2 separate regions of the Homo sapiens genome follow, and region 1 is linked to region 2. A link means that fine-mapping ties the variant in region 2 to the plasma level of a protein whose gene starts in the linked region. Region 2 holds a variant in brackets. A gene starts in the other region. All regions are shown on their forward strands.

Region 1 (2,500 bases), not on the chromosome of region 2:
TTCGAGCAGATGAGCCACCCAGAAGGCAGCTCCAGTTATTAGGTCCTAGGGCCTGGGTGTAGTCAGGCCCTTTGGAAGCTCCAAGTCAGAGATCAAACACATCCTCCCCACTACCCACGCCTAGGGTGACTAATGCCTGTGGGAAAAACAACTGAACTAAAAAGTCCCACAGGAACCTCAAACCCAGCACATCCAAAATGGAACTTCTCACCATCTCCTCCAAACTCAGTCCTCTTATACAGTAATCCCTGTAAAGCTAGAACAATCTCCATTCCCCATTCTCAGGGCCTTCCTCTCCCGCTCACCTGAGGAGCTACCAAGCCTTGGCCCACAAGCCCTCTGAGAGTCCCTCCTGCCCACCCTGTGTTCTCCATACTGAATAAGGACTTGGCCACACCTTGTCAACTCTTCCCTCTGCTCTACTCCTGACCCCTGGATCCATCCTTCATGCTGTGGCTGAAGGGATCCCCCCATCATGCAAATTCTGCCACATCTCCCGCCTAAAACCCAGGAAGACTCCCCACTACTCTCAGCACAGAAAGTACACTCCTTAGTATGGCATCCCCTGCCCTCATGGCATGGCCCCATCCAGCCCTCCAGCCTCACACCCTGCAAGGACACCTAGACCCCCACCTCCCTCAACCCTTCATGACTGCGCTTCTGATCCCTGTTTCCCCTGGCTAGACCCTGCGTGCCCTCCCGCTGGAAGCGGTCTAATGCCTGCTTGTTTTTAACACTCAGGTTGGGGCCCCTGCCTGCTCCCGGGAGCCTTTGCTGACTCCTGGACCCCGTTGCTCCGGCTGAGCGTGGGCTCTTTCTCTAGGTCTTTCCTCCCAGGACTCTGTGTATTCATCCTATCGTTAAACTGGATTCTCTACAAGAGTAATAATTGCAGAGTCAGCCAGCTCTCATCCCTTTTCAGGTTTCAGAAAAGACCTGTGAACAAAACGCCTTGAGTCTGATTTAGTGTGGCAATGCCCCAAGGGTCCTGTTCTCCCTGGGTGTCCTGCACCTGGTGCAACGTCGGCCTGGCATCTAGTGAGCCATCTAAAGGAACGATGATGAGTGAATGATTTGCCTACCCCTTCCAGTACTAGGCTGGAGGTCGTGGTTAGGGCCCATCCCTACGCAGGACATGCAAAGTGGGAGGCACTCCTCTCTCTACGTCGGCAGGGGGCGCTGCACAGCTGCGGGGCGGGGTAGCTTAGACACGGGGCGTCCGGCTAAGGCCGGGGACCCAGGGTGGTGGGCGGGGTGTCCCGCCCGCCTGTGGACCCCGCGCAGTAACTGCGAACATTTCGCTTTCATTTTGGGCCGAGCTGGAGGCGGCGGGGCCGTCCCGGAACGGCTGCGGCCGGGCACCCCGGGAGTTAATCCGAAAGCGCCGCAAGCCCCGCGGGCCGGCCGCACCGCACGTGTCACCGAGAAGCTGATGTAGAGAGAGACACAGAAGGAGACAGAAAGCAAGAGACCAGAGTCCCGGGAAAGTCCTGCCGCGCCTCGGGACAATTATAAAAATGTGGCCCCCTGGGTCAGCCTCCCAGCCACCGCCCTCACCTGCCGCGGCCACAGGTCTGCATCCAGCGGCTCGCCCTGTGTCCCTGCAGTGCCGGCTCAGCATGTGTCCAGCGCGCAGTGAGTACTCAGCCCGCCAGGTCTTTGGCTCGCTCGGGTGCGGAGGGGCGGCTGCTTGGGAAGAGTGGGTAGAAACTCAAGTCTGCCTAAGGAGAGACTGGAACAGCAGCAGCCGTCTCCTGCAAAGAGGAATAAGAATAGGGGTCTCACCGTGTGCTAAATAGGGCATGTCTCTTTTCATCTCGAAACAGCCTGATGAGCTATCATTATGCCCACTTCGTAGAGGAGAAACTGAGGCCCAGCGTGGGAGATTTCCTGCTTTCCTGCCTAGGGTCCCTCAGCTACAAACAGAAGGCAGATCCTAGCCAGTTCTAAAGTCAGGCTTGGCCGGGTGCAATGGCTCACGCCTGTAATCCCAGCACTTTGGGAGGCCAAGGCGGACAGATCTCCTGAGGTCAGGAGTTCAAGACCAGCCTGACCAACATGGTGAAACCCCGTCTCTACTAACAAATACACAAATTAGCCGAGTGTGGTGGTGGGTGCCTGTAATCCCATCTACTCGGGAGTCTAAGGCAGGGAAAATTGCTTGAACTCGGAGGTGGAGGTTGCAGTGAGCCAAAATCGTGCCACTGCACTCCAGTCTGGGCCACAGAGTGAGACTCCGTCTTAAAAAAACAAAAAAAGTCAGGCTTTCTCACTCCACTGTTTTTAAAACACTGGGTCCCAAGTCTGACTCAGCCACTTCACCACCTGGTCTGGGTTTCCCTGATCAAAAACATGTAGGCTTTCTCTGGGTGAGTGTTGGGTTCAACACCCTTGTCCAAGCTCATCTCTAGACCCTCACAGGGAGCTGGCTTCTAGCCCTAGAATAGAGTGGCGCTTTGTAATAACTCGAGTCATCTCTCAGGTGTTGAAGGAAAAGTGT
Region 2 (3,024 bases):
CAGATACTCTAGACAAGCAAATCTGAGGGATCGTGTGCTCAAACCAGGGCAGGAGTGTGACCTTAGGGAAGAAGGCATGAGGGAAAGGGCGTGCGGTGGTGAAGGAGGAGAGTAACGTGAAGGAATGTGTTACGGTTGTGACCACCGTTCTGCAGCAGCCCTGTAGGCTACTCCATCTTGCTGGACAGTCCCAAGAGGTCTTACGGACCTCTGCCGCCTGAGCAGGGCTCTACAGGAGGGCAAACACCTCTTCTGCTTTTTTCCCATTTTGAGTCCCCCAGTAGCTAAGCTTGCTCCATGGGGAGTCACCTTTTGTGCATTTCTAGTTTGAGTCACATGCCCTGCAGCTGGCAAGTCTGGGGGTGATGGGAACTGCCAGAGATGGCTGGTGTCAGCCATAAGGGCAAGCAGAGATCTAGCAGCCAAGATGCCAGCAGAGACTATAAAAGGAGTCTCTTTGAGATGTCGGAGCATTTGCACACAGTGGATTGTCAAATCCTCACAATGGCCCTGTGTTGTTCATTGAATTGTGTACCCCAAAAAGATAGGTTGAAGTCCTAACCCCTGGTACCTGTGAATGTGACCCCATTTAGAAATAGGGTCTTTGCAGATGTAATCAAGATGTGTTTAAGATGAGGTCATGCTGGAGTAGGGCAGGCCCTTAATCTGATATGAATGTTATCCTTTAGGAAGAGAAGAGATACAGAGGCAGGTGCACATAGAGAGGAGAATGCCACATGAGGACACAGATGCACGGGTGAATGCTCTGTGATGATGGAGACAGAGACTGCAGGGGCACATCTACAAGCCAAGGAATACCAAGGACTTCTGGCAACACCAGAAGCTAAGAGAACGGTGTGAAATGGGTTCTCTCTGCGAGCCTCTAGAGAGAGCATGGCCCTGCCAACACCTTGATTTTGGACTTTGGTTTTAGAAGTGTCAGAGAATACATTTCTGTTATTTTAAGCACCCCCGCCCTTTATGGTACTTTGTAACGGCAGCCCCAGGAAATCAAATGAAACAAGGATCTTGCATTTTCACAGCTAATAATTAGAGGAGCTGGGGTCTGAAGCCAGGTTTGCCTGTTGCTTAGATTTGATTTGAAAAATGGTGAAGGCTTTGCAGGGGTGGGATGGGGGAGACCAAAACATGTTCATGTCTGTGGGTAAATTGTAGGTGTATATATTTTTGAGGTACATGAGATATTTTGATACAGGCGTGCAATGCATAACAATCACACCAGGGTAAATGGGGTATCCATCACCTCAAACATTTATCCTTTGTGTTGCAAGTAATCCAATTCTATTCTTTTAGTTATTTAAAAATGAACAATTATTATTATTATTTTACTATAGTCGCTGTTGTGCTAGCAAACACTAGGGCTTATTTATTCTTTCTATTTTTTTGTACCCATTAACTATCCCCACTGACTACCCTTCCCAGCCTCTGGTAACCATCCTTCTACCTCTATCTCCATGAGTTCAATTGTTTTCATTCTTAGCTCCCACAGATAAGTGAGAACATGTGATGTTTGTCTTTCTGTATCTGGCTTGTTTCACTTAACATAATGACCTCTGGTTCCGTCCATGTTGTTGGAAATGACAGGATCTCATTCTCTTTTATGGCTGAATAGCTCTCTATTGTGTGTATGTACCACATTTTCTTTATCCATT[T/C]GTCTGTTAATGGACACTTAGTTTGCTTCTAAGTCTTGGCTATTATGCATAGTGCTGCAATAAGCATAGAAGTGAAGATAACTCTTCAATATACTGATTAAAATAAAAAATTAAAAAACAAGGTGGTGCTCCCTCACACACACAAGAGAGCAGCTCTGTCCAATACAGAGGCCTTGTGGCTACTGAGTGCCTGAACTGTGGCCAGTCTACACTGAAAGGGGCTGTGTGTGAAAAATACGTACTGGGTTTAGAAGACCTAGCACAGAAAAGAATGTAAAGTATCCAATTACTAATTTTTAATATTGATGACATATCAGAATGATTATATTTTGGATATAGTGGGCTAAATAAAATATATCATTAAGCTTCCTTGCACCTGTTAAAAAAAGCAACCACAAGAAAATTATAGTCACATATGTGCTTGTGGGATTTCTGTTGAACAGCACTGCTCTGGAATGTGAGTTCTTTGAAGGCAGAGACCATCTCTGTACTGCTGACTGTGGTCCAAGAGCCAGAGCAGGGCCTGACATACAAGAGTTTCTCAACACATAATTGTGGATAATTAAATGAATGAATAAACGAATGACCAAATCCAATCCAACTCTGAATCTGCTCGTCTGGTCCCTGTGAACATAGGATTGGATGTAATTTTCACCTTGCCTTGTCTCTCTGGGCAGTTCTTCAATGGCTGAGGCTTACAGAGAGAATGCATGCCGCACAGTGCTAGCTAATGGAGAGGCTGGATGTGTGGTGGAATTTGGAGAATAAAAATGGCCAGAGTATTTCCAACCACAATGGCAGTGACCACTTACTGGATACAAATTCTGTGCCTGGCATCATTCTAGGCACATTATATGGAGTGACTCATTTTAATTCTAACAACCTATGACATCAGTCCCACCATCAACTCTATTTGACAGACAGAGGAAATTAAAGCTCAGACAGATAAAATTATGCCCCCAGGGTTACAGAGCTGTTTTTTTTCCGAGTTCTGTCTGACATGACACTTGCACTCTTCACCACCATCACAGAACACAGAGAAGAGGGGACTGGGGGTCCTGCCAACACAGGGTGACACTGAACCAGGTCTGTTCAATTCTGAGGCCCCAGCTCCTGAAAGCAGGTGGCCCCAGCCCTCCAGGATTTGGAAGACTCATTGTCTGTGTCTGGTACCGTGGAGCATTTGGCCACATATCGTCTGTGCATCTAGACAAGTCCTGGCATGCATCCAGCCATATCTTGCCCATGCATCTTCTTCACCAGATGGCGGGACCACCCTCTGTACCTATGATGTGGCAATGACTGCACAGGTGAGTGAGCATTCCCTGTGTTGGAGGAGGGGCCCTGTGGG

Alleles and levels. Alleles are on the strand shown, and positions count from the first base shown. The strength of an association depends on the size of the effect and on how common the allele is.
As copies of C replace T in region 2, the plasma level of the protein whose gene starts at base 1,296 in region 1 goes up (weak association).

The links. PIP is the chance, under the fine-mapping model, that this variant and not a neighbour inherited with it causes the effect. Protein levels are from antibody-based Olink assays in UK Biobank. Linkage for the fine-mapping came from a reference panel and not from the study's own genotypes, which makes the PIPs less certain.
Region 1: IL12A starts here. The variant in region 2 is fine-mapped to the plasma level of the IL12A protein (UK Biobank, PIP above 0.99).

What each region holds. Positions count from the first base shown.
Region 1 is chr3:159,987,540-159,990,039 of GRCh38, forward strand. IL12A (interleukin 12A) reads left to right here and starts at 1,296. Exons shown (of 7, transcript NM_001397992.1): 1 at 1,296-1,635. The coding sequence starts at 1,620. It overlaps IL12A-AS1 (IL12A antisense RNA 1), which reads right to left. Exons shown (of 10, transcript NR_108088.1): 9 at 1,558-1,754. RefSeq lists enhancers at 1-154, 1,006-1,506, 1,507-2,007, 1,507-1,556 and silencers at 1,067-1,266, 1,337-1,386.
Region 2 is chr5:159,433,511-159,436,534 of GRCh38, forward strand. No RefSeq gene overlaps it. Among named protein-coding and RNA genes, the nearest start is that of LINC01845, 31 kb to the right of the region's middle. RefSeq lists an enhancer at 2,440-2,940. The variant T/C (reference allele first, on the strand shown) is at 1,674.